2 separate regions of the Homo sapiens genome follow, and region 2 is linked to region 1. The links come from fine-mapping of genetic effects on gene expression. A gene starts in region 1. The other region holds a variant in brackets. All regions are shown on one strand. Distances are from middle to middle.

Region 1 (8,003 bases):
ACTTAGACTCCTCATTACACATATTATTCCTGTGTCCTTGTTTCTCTGTCTGTCTGTGTGTTTCTAGGTGGGTCTCTTCCCCATGGGGGAGGGTTGACAGATAAAGAGTTGACATGATAAAGTCAACTGAGGGATGAGATGATCCTACAGACGACGGTGCCACTGAAACCAAAGAACCCTGAGATTTCTCTTTCTCCATCTCTCCAGCTGAGATCCTTCTAGTCTCCATGTCTCCCTCCACTCCCACTCCATCTCCCCAGACTGGTCTGACACTCCCCCACATTCTTTAGCTCAGGCCCTCCCCCTACCAGTCGCCCCTGCTCTGCTCCACATTCCCTCTGGACACTCCCCTGGAGTGGAAAAACCATCCCTCATCCCTTTCCGGCTCCCAGTCCCAGGATCGGACATGCTGGTCATTCCTGTTTGGGATGTCCAAAGAGATAAGGCCTGGCATGGGGCCAATCTGTCATCGCAGGACTCTCAAAGCTGTTTCAGGCAGGATCCTCACCCACATGGCGTTTCCACCCTAAGCCCCTGCCCTTCTTACCCTGGCTGGCTCCTCTTCTCCAGGAACATGGCAGAGGACTCAGGAGCCAGGCAGAGAGCAAAGATCACTGTTCAACTTCCATCCAGGTCAGCTTCCTGTTCCTTGACCCCACATGTCTTCTAATCCCTGCAGGCCCTGGGCCACAAAGCAGACCATGAGAGAGGCTGGGTGGCTCTGGAAGTCAGAGGTCAGGAACAAATCCTGTTCTAAGGGCCGTTAGAGACAAGTGTCTTCTCCCCAAACACCACAGAGAAAGCTGTTATCACAGCTGCTTTTGTTTAGGCATGTCTAGCTGTCTGACAACCATCTGCCTGGAGTTTGTCTTCTTAAAGACACGGTTGTGGTCAGCGGCTTCAGTCCTAGCTCTGCCTCCCATAAAATTCAGATCTTGGACAGGCAGGTAACCTCCTGAGGCTCTGTTTTCTCCTAAGTCAAATGAATATCATAATCCCCACCTCACAGGGAGGCCAGGAGGATAAAATGAGCCTGCTTGTGAAATGATTTGTAAACTGTAAAGCTAGGCCAGGACCCTTTCCCAGGCTCTGAATCTAATTTTGTACTCATAATTCTTATGAGTACAAAATAATTTTATTCTTAAAGAGCACCCCAGATTGCACAAGCTTCAGGACCCACCAAACTTGGACACGCCCAAAGTAGTGTATAAATGTTCATTATTAGCATAAGTAGTTAAGGGCTCCAGGGTCAGATAACACAGGATGAAAATCCTAGTTGTGTGACCTCTGCCAAATTGCCTAACCTCCCTGAGCCTCATTTTTCTCGTTTTAAAACAGAGATAACACTTCAAAGATTGTTGTGAGGATTTAACATTTGTGAAGCATTTAGCATAGTTCCTGCTGCGTATGTGCTTAATACATGGTGTTTTGTTCTTATTATTTTAAGAATAGATGGAGAAAAGAATGCTCGGGGAGGCCAGGCAGGGTGGCTCACGCCTGTAATCCCAGCACTTTGGGAGGCGGCGGGGTGGATCACGAGGTCAGGAGTTCGAGACCAGCCTGACCAACACGGCGAAACCCCGTCTCTACTAAAAATACAAAAATTAGCCGGGCATGGTGGTGGGCGCCTGTAATCCCAGCTACTCAGGAGGCTGAGGCAGGAGAATCGCTTGAACCCCGGAGGCAGAGGTTGCAGTGAGCGGAGATCGCGCCACTGCACTCCAGCCTGGGAGACAGAGCGAGACTCCGTCGTCTCAAAAACAAAACAAAACAAAACAAAAAAACAATGTTCCGGGGAAAATGGGTCTCTGAGCTGCAATAAGAGAAATGTGAGTTAGATCCAAGAAAGTACATAGTAACCTCTTTTTTTTTTTTGAGACGACGTCTCACTCTGTCACCCAGGCTGGAGTGCAGTGGCGCGATCTCGGCTCACTGCAACCTGCGCCTCCCGGGTTCAAGCGATTCTCCTGCCCCAGCCTCCCAAATAGCTGGAACTACAGGCGCCCGCCACCACGACCGGCTAATTTTTGTATTTTTTTAGTAGAGACAGGGTTTCCCCACATTGGCCAGGCTGGTCTCGAACTCCTGACTTCGTGATCCGCCCTCCCCGGGTTCCCAAAGTGCTGGGATTACAGGCGTGAACCACTGCGCCTGGCCAGAGTAACCTCTTGAAGTTCCCTTTCGATTTGATTCCTTGGTGGAGGAGACCTTTAGTCTCCGCCCACTTACTGCCACCTGGCCCTACCCACCAAACACCTGATGGGTGCTGACGTCCGAGCCCAGTCTCCAAACACTCTGTTCGAGCTTGGGTGGGAAGAGGGAGCCTCTGGGATTCTGCTGGGCTGGGCCCTGAAGGCAGGAGTGGACGAGAAATGGATACGGTCTAGGCTCAGCTTCCCGGCTACGCAGTGCGTTCTGTGAAGGACGGACTCATTTCTACATTGACAGTCTTAGCCTTTGATACCAGAAGTCGCAGCACTTAGGGGGAAAAATGCTTTTTGGTAATTATAATTAGCGACATTTGGTTGTTACCACTGCTAAATATGTCTGTCTTTGCTGAGGAGCCAATCTCAGCTCGGATCAGGGTGAGTGGATAGGAGAAATAAATCTCGGCAAAGACAGCGAGGGGCCTGAGTGCGAGGAAGAACTCCCAGAGACCGCCAGCCACCTCTTGGGGACTCACAGCGCTGCGGAGGCGAGTCCAGCATTCTAGCCAGCCGCGCACGGACGTCGGTTCCCAGATGCGCCAATGCCAGGTCTCTCCAGCCCGGCTGGCCTTTTCAGCAGCAGCAGCAGCAGCCGCAGGAAAGCGGCCAGACAAATCCCACCCCCGGCCCCGCCCGTCACATCCATCTTGCTCCCCAGGCGACGCTTTCTCGGAGAAGCGAGGGGCGGGGAGGGGAAATCTAAGCCTTTGGGGGTTGCCGACAGGTGTTTGGGGGAGAAGGCGGAGCTGGGGTAGGGAGGATGAGGAGGGAGGGGCGGTGCTGCCCCTTTAAGAGGAGGCGGCCGAGCCGGGATCTTTTTCTCTTTCCCCGGAAGGAAAGCGCAGCCCGGGCTGGGCTCGCAAGGTGGGGAGGTGCGGGACTGGGCGTGGGGAGGCGGGGCGCGCGCCGGGGGACCCCTCCCTCCTGTCCTCCTTGCGGTCGACCGGTGCGCTTGCCAGATCCGCCGCGAAGCCGGGATCGAAGGCGACAGCGCGGCCAAGGGGGCGCGGCCGGGACAAGCTGGGGGCCGGTTGCCCGGGGCAGGGACGGCGGCGACCCGGCCGCTGGGGAGGCAGGAAGATAGACCCACGGATCTTAGGAAGGGATCCGAGAGCGCAGCTGTGAAACTGGCTGGGGCTGGGGGCACGAAACCGATCAGCGCTACGGAGCGCAGCGGCCGGCGGGTTCCAGTGTCCTCCGGCGGCGCGGGGAGCAGGTGAACAGGTCCTCACGCCCAGCTCCGCGCCCTCACGCGCTCTCGCCGGGACCCCGCTTCCGCTGGCAGCCATGGGCCCCGGCCCCAGCCGCGCGCCCCGCGCCCCACGCCTGATGCTCTGTGCGCTCGCCTTGATGGTGGCGGCCGGCGGCTGCGTCGTCTCCGCCTTCAACCTGGATACCCGATTCCTGGTAGTGAAGGAGGCCGGGAACCCGGGCAGCCTCTTCGGCTACTCGGTCGCCCTCCATCGGCAGACAGAGCGGCAGCAGCGCTACCTGTAAGTGAAGCTGGAGGGTGTGGGGTGGGAGCGAGAGAGTGTGCGAGCGCGGGATGCGGGTCCGGAGCTGAGTCGGAGCCCAGGGCAGCTGGCCCTTGGGAGCCAGGATTAAGGGGCGGCCCTCTGGCTGCTGGGGGTTGGCGGGAAGTGGAGGATTGGGTGTGGGGTCGGGCAGTAATCATTGGCAAGTGCTGACGGGGCCAGAACCTGTCTGGACGCCACCCCTCCGCCCTTTAGATCTCTCATGAGAGCGGAAGTGGGGTCCCGGTGGCTGAGTCCTCTCCCATTCTGTGAACCGAGTACCCAGCACTAGCCTGTTCTCTCCAGGGCTGGGAGCTGGGGTAAACTGCAAGATAAACACCCAGCGGACTCCCCCCTTCCCGTACGCTTGGGGGAAAAATGAGCATATACATTTAAGCACCTCGCTGGTAGTCTGCGGCCACGCCAGCCACACCCTCTGCAGAGCCAGACTGGATGGCCTTCTCAACCGCTGGCTTGGCGGATGGAGGGTGAGGCGATGGGTGAGTCTGGGCGTTTGGAGCTGTCCATACGCTCCCTCTGACGCCTTGAGGATAGGGGCGGTGAAAGAGAGAGGAGGACTTGTCCCAACTCTGGCTGGGTCTCCTCCTGCCCACCCGCAAGCAGTGGCACTCTCCCCGCAGACATCTTCCCTGCATTCCACAGATTCGTGTTGGATCTTCAACCCTGAGTGTGTTTGTTTTGGTTTGAAGAGGGAAACAGTGTTTTTCTCTTTCTTCTGTTCTCCTTCCCCAACAGCTGCAAGGAGGAGGGGAAGAGCTATGCACAGTGGAGGAAGGAGGAGGAGGTTGCACCCAGCCTCCTGGGTCCCCCTCACTCCACCAGACGCCCTCATGCCCAGGAGCATGTCCAGGCTTCAGAGGTCTCTCTGCCGTGGCCTCAGAGCGCGCGGAGGTTGGCGGTTGGGGGAGGTGAAGCTGTCCAAAGAGGGACGGTGTTTAGGACAGGTTAAGCAGGTACCATCCACCACTTTGGGCTGGGCGATCTGCCAGGCATCTGCCCCCACCTAGCCTCTGCCCCCACCTGGCCTCTGACCCCACTGAACAAGAAGACGTGGTCACATCCAGGGTACACTGGAAAATCTCCCTGCTCTGGCTGGGGCCTGCAGAGCTTGAGGAAGTTTAGAATGTCCAAAGTCCAAACTCTGCCCCCGCCTTGGTTCTGCCCTCCTGACCCAGCCTACCTACCTGGACTTAACCTCAACTCCATCTTGCTCTTGCAGAGGCTAGGGCTACCACACCCTTCCCAGCCTGGCCCCAGCAGCTGCCACCTGGCCTTAGCCAACCCTCTATCTTTTGGAGATCCTGAGCCACCATGAGCACAAGTTTCTACATCAGCTCTTTCTGCCCTAACTGAGAAAAAGATTTTCAGACTTTCAATGCCAAATCTGCATGATATAAGATAACATAGGTAAAGAGATCAGACTGGAAAGAAAGAGTCAATAATGATTCCGCAACCCTTTTGCCTGGTGACCTTGAGCAAGATATTTCCCCTCCCTGGGCCAGGTTTCCCCCAAAACGGGTTGGACCTGGATCTAGTGCTCTTTCCCACTGCTGCTGGCCTGTGAGAAGCAACTTGATATGGTAGAGGGAGAAGAGGCTTGGAGGTCCCATGGCCAGTGTCCTGTCTCAGATCTGTTACCAATACCTGAACCTGAATTTCCGCACATGTTGGAGGGAGGGGAACAGCATGCCTTCTGCTGGGATGTTAGTGGGGCTGTAACGAGATAAAGTGCGTAAAATCCTCTGCACATGTGCCTTTCTCCAAGGAGCACCTGAAGGCTCTTGCGCTGAGGCCAGAACCTGGATGCATCCTCATTACCCATGGGCCCCGCCCAGGGTGGCTGAGCAAAGGGGTTCTACTTTTCTGTCTGGGAAGCTGGAGCTGGCATTCAGCCTGCCAAGAGCCCAGAAGGTTCTAAAGCTAATGAACCTCTGAGGGGCAGTTCTCTCCCTTGAGTATCCTCAGTCTTTCCTAAGGGTGGTTCTGTGTCTTGGCCCTTCTCTTCATCTCACTAAATTCGACCCCTCGGCCATTTGGGAGAGCCAGCTGGGCTTAGCTGCAGCCAGCTGTGTAGCCAGATGCAAACAGCTGCCTGAGTGCACAACTCAGAGGAACTAACTAGTAAGACGAGCTGCAGCCTCATATTCTGTTAGCCTGAAAGTCTCTTTGGAAAAGTGGGATGGTTCGTGGTCTTGGACAGGCTCTTAAACTGGGGTTCGTAGAAGGTTTTCAAGAGATGCAGGGACTCCCTGAAAGTGTACCCAAAATCGTAGTATTTGTCCACTGCCCTGGGGGTGGGAGGAGGGGAGAGCACAGCTTTCTTGTTCTCCATTCATAAGGCCTCAGAAATGGTTAGAAACCCAGGGGTGGGACCCTCTTTGCTGCCCCATCACCTTCATCTCTGGACTGGGGTTCCTGGTCCACAACATAGGGGGCTAGCCCCAACCCAGGGCCCAGTCTCCTAGTCTGTGGAAATGAGGGGTAAGGAGCAGGCAGAGGACCAAAGTGCTCTGGGCTTCTTGGCAAGATGCATGAGGGGTTCCTTGGAGGGACAGGGACTGTTCTCTGGGAGGTGGTTACTGACACCCTCTCTGCTCCAGCACCTGCACTGACATTCCCTCCTGGGAATCCAGGCATTCTGGTCTGGCCTGACCCTGTGGGCCTATGGGGATACTGCCGGTCCTTCTCTCTCTTTCACTTTTGCTTGGAAATGAGGGTATCTGGGAAGCCCAGGGCAGGGTGGCTCCTAGAAATGAGGTCATGCCTGAGGTACGCAGGAGCCAGGCTCACCTGCCATGCTCTCCTAACATCATGTTTCCCTGGGCAAAGCAGGTGCCTGGCAGCCTTCAAGGTTCGTGCCAGCAGAAATGGGCACAGCAGCTGTGGCTGGAGGCAGAAGGCCTGCTCGTGTAGTATCTTTTTCCTCTGGCTCTACCCAGTGACCAGTCTAGGCCAAGAGGCTTTCAACTGGGCAGGAGTAGGGGAAGCCTGATCTTGTAGAAAAAGCAGCAGCGAAGGGGGCTTGGTCAGAAGTAAACAAAGAAGGAAGAAGATCCCCTTTGCAGTAAGAGGAATTGAGGTTAGATGACACTTAGAATGCCCTCGGGGGTCAAATACAGGAAAAATACTGAAGAGCCAAGGAAAGGGAGCAGAACTGAGAAAAATGGCCTTGTTCTTTTTTTATCTGAGGCTTAGCCAGGGCTCTTTTTCCTGTCCTTTCTCATTCTCTCTCTCCCTCCAGCTTGTTGCTCTGGTTCTAGGGCTGAGTCACCAGTGGGGAGAGGGGGCTGGGTGGGCAGCAAGGGAAGGGTCAGGAAGGATGGGGAGGGCTGCAGTTTCAGCTGCCACAGGGCCGGCCTCTGGGGAGATGGCTAATTCGGGCAGCAAGGCTGGCATAGAGCTGGGATCCAGGCATCCCAGAGCTGCCCCCACCCCTTCTCTGGGGCTCAGAGGTGGAGCAGGCACCCTCCCCACCTGCCTCCCGGCCGGGGATAGGAGGGGAACACAGGAGGCTAGGTACCCAAGGAGTGAGGCCCTGCCATGTTGGCCTGAGTGCTAGATCCTTTGGCCCCCTCTGGAATCCTCCCATGGAGCCACCAAGTGCCTCCCTGAGGTGACAGAATCTGGGAAGGTGAATCTTACAGGCTGCTTCTCTGAGCATTACCCCACCCCAGTGCCCCCAGGGGCCTTCTCCTCTTTGAGGTGAGCCAACCTGGTACCCTGAATTCTCCTGGGTACTGTGCCGCGCCCTTCTTTGATTCTTCTGCTTTCTCCTTGGCTGTTCCATTAGCTCTGAACTGCCCCAAGGGGAGTGATAGGGCAGGGGTAAGGAAGGGCTTTTTCGGAACTTGGAGCTCAAGGGGCTCCGCAGAGGCCAAGAGGGGCTGTTTGGCTGGAGCCAATGGGAGGGTGAGGAGGCAGCTGTTGGAAAGCCCTTGAGTAGTCACTTCACCCATCCCACTCCATCTGGGGGGCTGGGGGTCTCTGCTCCCCCCAGTCCAGCCTGACTCCAGGAGAGGGGCAGTCCCATCTCCTATCTTCCTTGCTCTAAGAGCTCCATCTAGGCATCCCTCCACCTACTCTCCCTCCTTCTGGCTGCAGCTGAGGGGATGGGTTCAGTACTGCTCTGGAAGGGGTCAGCTTTTGGATTTTGTGATCTGGACCAGACCTAAAAGCAGGTGGCTGGCAGAATTGCTCATTTGTGTACTAATTTGCATTTCATTTGCATACAGTAAGGTCCCTCTCACCTTCAGGATTCTCC
Region 2 (9,227 bases), 22 kb before region 1:
GATTCGCCATGTTGGCCAGGCTGGTCTCTAACTCTTGGCCTCAAGTGATTTGCCGTTCTCAGCCTCACAAAGTGCTGGGATTACAGGCGTGAGCCACCACGCCCGGCACTGTTTTGCTTTTTAATTGAGCAAGGGGCAGGCCACTCCCAGGGGTTCCCCAACCTCAAACCACTGCTCCCTATCCCAGCCCCTCAGACCCTTCCCTTATCAGCAAGGTATGTCTGAAAAAGTAGTACTATGAAGATTATCTGAAATACACACACACACACTCCATTAGGTTGAGTGGTGAAATATTCAAAGCTTTCTACTACGATCAGGAGGCAGCTGAGGAGCCCACTGTTACCACTCCATCCAGCACTACCCTACAAGGGAGGCCTCAGGCAAGGGAATAAGGCACAAGAAACATTGTGAGAATTGTAAAGGGAGAAAGAAAACTGCCAGTATTTAGATGACATAGTGGCCCATAGACAAAATCCCCCAAAATATACAGACAAGCTGTTAGAATAAATAAGTAAATTGAGTAAGCTCACTGGATACAAAATCAGTATAAAAAATCAAATGTTGCTGGGGTAGGCAAAGATTTCTTTTTTTTTTTTTCCTTTAAATAGAGATGCGGTCTCACTATGTTGCCTAGTCTGGCCTTGGACTCCTGGGCTCAAGCAATCCTCCTGCCTCAGCCTCCTGAATAACAAGATTTCCTAAATAGGACACAGAAAGTACTAACCATAAAGGAAAAAACTTGATAAATTTTTCTCCATTGAAATTAGAATTACTAAGCCGGATGTGGTAACCCATGTCTGTGGTCCCAGCTAGTAGAGAGGCTGAGGCAGGAGGATTCCTTGAGCCTAAGAGTTTGAGTCCAGCCTGGGCAACATAGTGAGACCCTGTCTCTAAAAGTGAAAAAAAAAAAAAAAAAGGAACGAATCAAATGTTTTTCTACCAATGTACAATTAGGGAAAGGAATTAAAAGGACAACATCATTTATACATCATAAAAATATCAAATACCTAAAAATAAATCTAACCCAAACAGTGAAAGCTCCCTCACTACACAGAAAACTTCAAAACATCTTTGATAAATACTTAAAAATATCTAGGCCAGGCATGGTGGCTCATGCCTATAATCCTAACCCTTTGGGAGGTGGAGGCGGGCAGATCACTTGAGCCCAGGAGTTTGTGACCAGCCTGTGCAACATAGTGAAACCCCATCTCCACAAAAAATAGAAAAATTAGTCTGGTGTGGTGGCGTGTGCCTGTAAGAGGCTGAGGTGGGAGAATCACTTCAGCGCAGGAGGTCGACACTGCAGTGAGCCATGACTGTGCCACTACAGTCCAGCCTGGGTGACAGAGTAAGATCTTGCCTCAAAAAATAAAAAAATTTAAAGATAATCTAAATTAGTGTTCATGGATTGGAAAGCTCCACCTTGTAAATCCTCCCCAAATCAATCTATAGATTCAATGCAATTCCAATCAAAATCCTGGCAGGAATGTGTGTGTGTGTGTGTGTGTGTGCAGAAATCGATAAGTTGATTCTAAAATTTGTATGGAAATGGAAAGGATCAAGAATAGCCAAGACTTTCTTCAAGTAGAGCACAGCTGTAAGACTTCCAGTACTAGATATTAAGACAACATGGTATTAGTGCAAGGACAGAATAGAGAGCCTGTGGGACAGAATAGAGAGCCTTGAAGTGAATCCACCCAGATGTGATTATTTGATTTCTAACAAAGATGATACTGCTCAGCTATACTGGGGAAAGGATAGTCTTTCCAATAAATGGTGCTGGGCAATTGGATATTCATGTGGAAAAAAGGTATCTTGATCCCTATGTCACATCATACACAAACATAAAATTCTACATGGAATATATATCTAAATATAAAAGGTAAAACCACTAGAAAAAAACAGAATATATTCATGACCTTGGGTAGGCAAAATTTTGTTGTTGTTTGTTTGTTTGTTTGTTTGTTGAGATAGGGTCTTGCTCTGTCACCCAGGCTGGAGTGCATTAGTGCAATCCTAGCTCGCTGCAGCATCAACCTCCCAGGCTCAAGCAATCTTTCCACCTCTACCTCAGCCTCCTGAGTAGCTGGGACTATAGGCAGATGCCACCATGCCAGGCTAATTTTTGTATTTTTTTTTTGTAGAGACTGGATTTCACCACATTGCTCAGGCTGGTCTCGAACTCCTGGGCTCAAGCGATCCTCCTGCCTCAGCCTTCTGGGTAGCTAAATTTCCTAAACAGGACACAAAAAGTTCTAGCCATAAAGAAAAAAAACTTGATAAATTATTCTCCATGAAATTTAGAACTTCTAAGCCGGGCACTGTGGTGTGTGCCTATAGTCCCAGCTACTTGGGAGATTGAGTCAGAAGGATTACCCGAGGCCACGAGTTCAAGGCTGCAGTGAGCTATGATTGTGCCGCAGCACTCCAGCCTGGGTGAGAGAGCAAGACCCTATCTTTATAATCAAAATAAAATAAAATTAGAACTTCTGTTGATCAAAAGTCACCATTAAGAAAGTGAAAAGGGGCCGGGCATGGTGGCTCACGCCTGTAATCCCAGCACTTTGGGAGCAAGGCAGGTGGATCACCTGAGGTCAGGAGTTCGAGACCAGCCTGACCAACATGGTGAAACCCCATCTCTACTAAAAATACAAAATTAGCTGGGCGTGGTGGTGCATGCCTGTAATCCCAGCTAGTTGGGAGACTGAGGCAGGACCTCCTTGAACCTGGGAGGCAGAGGTTGCAGTTAGCCGAGATCGCGCCATTGCACTTCAGCCTGCGCAACAAAAGCGAAACTGTCTCAATAAATAAATAAATAAATAAATAAATAAAAAGAAAGTGAAAAGGAAAGCTGCAGAGTTGCAGGAGAAATTTGCACCACAAAAGGCTTGTATCCAGAGCATATAAAGAACACTAATAGATCAACAGGAAAGAGACAGATAACTCAGTAGAAATGGGCAGGCAACGTGAACAACCCCGCCACAATAAGGCTTTCCAAATGCCCTGTAGTCATATGGAAAGACGCTCGATATCATAAGTCACTAGGGAAATGCAAAAGCTACAATGAGCTAAAATGAAAAAGACTGACTTCTGAAGATTGGCAGGGGTGTGCAGCAAATGGGGCTCTTGTACCAGCTGGCAGGAGCGTGGGTTGGCACAACCGCTTTGGAAAACTTTATGACAGCACCAACTAAAGCTAAGCATACGCAGCCCCTATGACTAGCAAGTCCATATCTGGGCCTGTATCCAACAGAAAAGTATTCATTGTGCCCCAAAAAACATGCAAAAGAATGTTCACCACAGCACTATTGTCAACAGTCCTAAACTGAAAAAATCCAGATGTCCATCAGCAGTAGAATGAATAAATAAATGGTGGCGTATTCATACGAGGGTGTCCAGCAATGCAAAGAAACAAACTGTAAGTACAAGAAACAAGATGGGCGAATGTCATAGGCTTAATGTTGAGCAAAAACTGCCAGACACAAAAGAACACATATTCTACGATTCTGCTGATGAAAAGTTAAAAAACCAGCAAAACGAACCTATGGTGGTAGAAGTCAAGATGATTGCTACCTTCTAAGAAGGAAGAAATTGGGAGGAGATATAAAAGGGCTTGGGGGATGCTGGAAATATATTTCCCAACCTGGGTTCTGGTTACACAGGTGTGTCCATTTGGTGAAAATCCATCCACTTTTCTGTCTATGCGTTACACTTCAATTAAATATTTCCATTAAAATAAAATAAAATGGTGGCCCAGAGAGACTCATTAACTTGCCCAGAGTCACGCAGTTCTTACGCAGGAAGTTAAAAGTCTTAGGTTCTTATTCCTTCTTCGTTCCTCACTCTGTAAGGTTCTGGGCAAGCGATCTCTTTCTGGGGTTTACTTTCCCCAACTGTGTGGAATAGAAAACACACACACATGCGCACACACACGCACACACACACGTTATTGCAAAAGCTGGCAGCAGAACTAGGAAATACCTTGCTGGGCTCTCTTGGGATGTGAAACAGAGAGAGAGAGAGAGAGAGAGAGAGAGAGAGAGAGAGAGAGAGAGAGAGAAAGGATCTATCTAACTAATAGCTTGGGAGAACTCTCGGTTTCAGGAGACCACTCAGGAGAGAATTCCTGAGGACAGATGTGGAGAGAGAGAGACAGACAGATAGAGATAGAGACGAAGAGAGATTGAAAACCAAGACAATAAGTGGTAGGCAACCAGAGGGAGGTGGAAACATGGGCTTGGGAGCTGGGTGGAAAAGTAGCCCCTTCTTCTCCATCACCCCCATCCCTCAGGAATGATCCCCCACCCTCACTGCCTTGGGTGAAGAGTATTTAGGGAGGAATTAAAGGGAAGGGGGGCTGCATTCCACACCTGGGCTGACACAGTTCGGAGCAAACAGCCCACAGGTGAGAGGCAGAGGGCAGTGGGAATGCAGCAAGGACAGGTCAGGGAGGCCGGGGTGAGGGCAACACTCAACGCCACTCGAGTATGTGTTGTTTTCTTTGAGCCAGACTCTCACTCCGTCACCAAGGTTGGAGTGCAGTGGCGCAATCTCAGCTCACTGCAACCTCCACCTCCCTTGTTCAAGTGATTCTTCTGCCTCAGCCTCCCGAGTAGCTGGGACTACAGCCACCCGCCACCATGCCTGGCTAATTTTTGTATTGTTAGTAGAGACGAGGTTTTGCCATGTTGGCCAGGCTGATCTCAAACTCCTGACTTCAAACTCCAGACCTCAAGTGATCCGCCCGCCTTGGCCTCCCAAAATGCTGGGATTCCCACTGCGCCTGGCCTGGGTGTGTCTTCTAAATGTGAGGGTGGAAGGAGAGCCTGCAGGTTTGGAGGACTCAGGTACCCAGGTGACGGAGCCTTGGTTTTCCCACAAAAGCAGCAGGGGAAATTAGATGTGGTTTAGGGCCAACCCAGCCCAGCGAACTTTCTCCAAGCCCCTGCCCACACTAGCTCAGGGCTGCAGAAGGTCAGCCCCGCTGGCCAGACATGAACACAAACTCATGGAGAATGTTGGAGGCCAAAGGCCGAAGTGGCTAGAAAAAGCCATGGTGATTTTCCTTACTGACATCTGGAGGCTTGAAGGAGAGCTCTCCCCACCCCACCCATTCCCCACCCAGACTTGTCCTTGGATGGAAGGATTCTGACCCCCAAAAGAGGCAAGGGATTCCACGCAGGTCCCAGTCCCCAAGGATAGAATCATCTGGCCCTGAGCAGCCAGGAACTAGTGGCCTGCTGATTGCAACACATCAAGGAGCAGCTGATACTGAAGGCCAGGGAGGTGAGGGGGG[G/A]GAAGGAGGTTTACCCATAATATCATCTGCCTCTCACCATTTGGAGGCGGCAAAGATTCTGAAGGCTTTGATCGGGCTGGGCCTCACCTCTGACTGAGCTGTCGCCAGCATGACCGCAGTCCACCAGCAGGAAAACTGCAGGAGGTGGCACTTTAGTGACTGTAGTGCACAGCTGAGGCCTGGAGAGGCTCCACCACATACCCAAAGCTGCACAGCTGGGAGGTCATGGGCTGGGGGGAGAAGAGGCCAGCACTCTGGGGGAGCTGGCAGGAGTGCTAGGAGCTGCTTTGCTCCTGGTGGTGAAGGAGGCTCCAGGCTGGGGGAGGAGCAGTGGTGAACATAGCCCCTAAGAGAAATGGGAGACTGCTTTGATGGAACCCTCCTCATCAAGGCTTATCTCCAGATGCCACCTCCTCCAGCCAGCCTTCCCAGATGTCCTTATCAAAGAGGCTGTCTCCTTCCTCATCTCCATCCCCAACCCCCCAGCACACAGACCATACTGAGTCCTGTCTCCCAGCCTGAGTGGGGCCCTGCCCTGCCTGTCTCCCCCGAGCACTGACTGGTATCTGAGTAGCAGGGTGGATGGGCTCTGCAGGCTGTCCTCCTCAGGGAGCCTCACATGGACTTTGAGCAGGGTAGCTGCTCACCAGCACTTAGGCCAACCAGAGAAGAGCTCCATGCACCTCTGCCCAGCCCCAAGCTCTCCTTGGGAAAGCTCCATGACAGGTGAGGTCAGCCCAATCCAAGGCTTCAGAATCTCTGCAGTCTCCAAATGGTGAGAGGCAAATGAGATCGTGTGGGTAAACTTTTCTCCCTGCTCATCTCCCTGGCCCGCAGTATCAGCTCCCCGCAGCCTGCTGCCTCCTAGAAGACTTCCTGAGGGAGGGAAAGACGGTGGCAGAGAGTAGGAGCCAGGGACAGACAGAGGATCTTCCAGAAGCTGGGAGAGGAAAAGGAGAGCTTGGGGCTGGGCAGGGGTGTTTAGCTCTCCCATGATGGCCGCACTGCCCTCCAAAGCCCTGATGCCAGGGTGGACCTGCCCTCCCTGCCCTGGCTCAGGACTTGCAAAAGGTGTGGAAGGACCAGCCGGTTGCCCCATCCTGGATGGGCAAGAATTTGGGACCCCTCTCTGCCTCTCAGCTCCCACTCTCCCCTGTGATCCAGTCCCAGCCTGGAAAGCCCTGTTCAGGGGAGGAGAGGTGGTGAGTGAGTAGGGGTCCCGTCCTTTACAAGAGCCCTTTGTCCCAAGGGGCCTAGAGTCTCTCAGGCTGACGGCCCCTCCCGGGCTGGCCTGGAGGCAGAATGAGGACTCCCCAGGGGGCAGATGAGACAGTGTCCCTCATTGTCCTCAGGTGCCTTATGGGGCAAGGGAGCAGGTGTTTACCGACTCAGGAGAGGCTTGGTTGAAGTCCAGGTTTATCTGCTTAAACCACGTCGAGGGGGAGAGGGAGGCTGTTTGTTCCTACGTTTCCACCCCAAACCTCCCAGGGCAGGGGTGGGGGCCTGCAAAGGGCAGGGAAGGCTGAGGGCCTGGGCTCTTGACACTCCAAGGACGTCAGCCACTGCTTCACCTGGCCTGGTTCTCTTCCTCCCACCAAACCTCTTTTCAGTGAGTGGCACCTGGATTCCTGTCCCACCCTGTCTGTGCAGACATGAGAGATGAAGAAAGAGGGGGACAGAGAGACAGAGGGAGACAGGAATAGGAGAAGGAGGTGGGTCATGGAGGCAGAGTCGGTGGAGCAGGGGAGAAGACTCCAAGAGGGACTTGGGCAGGGTCCTGGGAGTGGGGCCCGGCTGCCCAGCTTGGGAGGGGCAGCACAGGGCTGATTGTCCAGGGGCCGCTGCAGCCTCCCCAAACCCTCCAGTAGTTTGGGTATGGGATGTGGCTGTGTGCCCTGGGAGGTGGCTGGCGGGCCCAGGGCAGTGTCCCCACTCCTGTCAAGCTCCTTGAGTATTTTTTCCTGTCGGCTCTGCCTCTAGGGACCGCTTCCCGCCCAGGATGTAAGGCAGGCAGCAGCTTGTCTGACCCAGCCTGGCCCTGGGGGAGACCCCATTCTTGGTGGCTGGATAATCTGAGCCAGGGAGACAAGAGAGACTGCTCCCACCCCCATCTCAGCAGCCTGGAAGAGCAAGGCAAGAGAGACTGCTCCCCGCCCTTTGCTTCTCTACCTCTCGTTGGAGAGCAGGCCATAAGCATCTGGGGTGCAGCCAGATTCCTGCCAGGCGGGTGGGCTGGGGGAGGGATCGGGGCAGGCAGCGGGCTACTGTTCTCCTGCACCGCCTCCCAGGCTCCTGCCTCCTCTGGCCACCCCTCCCTGTGTCCAAGGCCTGCTCGCCTGAGTGAGACATGAGTAATGGACACAGCACAGGGCCTGACCCAAGGGCCTTGGCTGCAGGCCCAGCACTAGGAACACTGTAAATATTTGGGGGAATTAATGATGCTCCTTCTCCCCAGCCAACTCTCTCCTGCAACCCAGAAGGCTTATGGGAGGAGGCCACAGTGTCCATCCCTCTGCCTCCGAGCTGAGACAACATTAAGGATATAGGGGTCCAGACTGCTGGGTCCTTGACTGGGTTTGGCCACAGACAGGAGAACCATACTTGTAATGTGGCTGCACCATCTCAGCCATCCCCCCGGCCTCCAGGCCAGCCAGCATCTCCTCCAGCCTGGAGATCCCAAGCCTTCTCTCTCAGGCACAGAATCCTTTGTTAATGGATGTTCTTTCTGAAATCTAGCTTCTGCCCTTCCAGGAACCCCTTCCATGGTTCTGGGATGGCAATGAATGGGTCTGCCCTTTAGGTAGTTAATGGTGCTCCTCACCCTGCTCTGCTGCATCCCCTCCTGGAGAGCTTCTGCCTGCTGTCACCCTGTCCAAGGGCCCAACCCTGGTGGATATCCCTAAACTTCTTGGGGTCCCCTTCCCTGCCTTAGCAGAAGCCTGGAGCAGGCATGGCCTCTCTACCTTTCCTGACATTTCCCCCTCTCCTGTGGCCTTAGATTGAGACAAGGATGTCGTTTGAAAGAAGTCTCTGAACACTTACCATACCAGGCAGCTGGGAATTTTGAGGTCATCTCAAGGTGCTCCCTGTCCCCACTCCTAGGGCCCTGAGAGAGGCTGTGGATGCAGGGCTGCGCTGGGTTGGGCTCTGGAGCAGGAAAGCTGGAAGAAGGCAGTTGTATGTGCTTCTCCAATCTTACTCCCTTGTCCAGAACTTGATTTCAAATCTAGTTTCATGAGACTCCTTTGACCCACTTCCTTGGATAATATTGAGCAAGGTATTGAAATCCTCTAAGGCTCAGTTTCCTCATCTGTCAAATGGGGAAATGAGGATTTTTTTGAGCATCAGATGAGATATGCATGCAAAGCACTTAGCATAAGGTAGAATATGTAGTAAGTACTCAACAAATGGTAACCAGTATGACTAAGACTTTTAAGACTTAAAGGCCAGTTTTCCTTCTCCAAGTTCCCTCAGCTCCAAGCTCCAGGTGTGTTTCTCATGGCCTGGGAGAAACAGAGCTGTTCTGGAAGAAGGCACCTTGGGACGGGACAAGACACTCTGCTCCAGCCTGACTGGCCCTGATCAGGCCAACCTGCTTCACCCACTCTTGCCCCCACTGCCAGGATTATCATAGGCCCCCAGATCCGGTGCCTTCCTCCCACACCCACCAGCCTGGCCAGGCTGGTGCCTATCCCACTTCCAGGAAGAGGGACATAAACACAGCTGGGGTGGACGAGGGCCCCCAGCATCCTCTCTGGAAGCAGTGAAGCAGTCAGGGGCTCCAGGATGGATCAGGGAGAATCTGGGAATTCCTAGGACTCAGGTCAGGGAGTCCAGGGAGAGGAGAAGCTCCCGTTCCTAGAGCTGAGGAAAGAAGTGGCAGGGTAGTCCCCTCTGAACACTGTGTTTGGATCCCTACCACCTCTGCCTC

Alleles and levels. Positions count from the first base shown, and alleles are read on the strand shown. Sizes are in standard deviations (SD) of each study's normalised expression.
For the expression in adrenal gland of the gene that starts at base 3,165 in region 1, allele G in region 2 goes with a higher level than allele A (moderate effect, 0.71 SD a copy in GTEx).

Evidence for each region.
Region 2: its variant is fine-mapped to the expression of ITGA3 in adrenal gland (GTEx, PIP 0.98).

The regions. Positions count from the first base shown.
Region 1 is chr17:50,052,946-50,060,948 of GRCh38, forward strand. ITGA3 (integrin subunit alpha 3) reads left to right here and starts at 3,165. Exons shown (of 26, transcript NM_002204.4): 1 at 3,165-3,700. The coding sequence starts at 3,495. It overlaps PICART1 (p53 inducible cancer associated RNA transcript 1), which reads right to left and starts at 2,794. Exons shown (of 3, transcript NR_038230.1): 1 at 2,684-2,794; 2 at 548-682. RefSeq lists an enhancer at 1,593-2,119 and a silencer at 3,099-3,238.
Region 2 is chr17:50,030,272-50,039,498 of GRCh38, forward strand. No RefSeq gene overlaps it. Among named protein-coding and RNA genes, the nearest start is that of PICART1, 21 kb to the right of the region's middle. RefSeq lists an enhancer at 4,290-5,086. The variant G/A (reference allele first, on the strand shown) is at 5,297.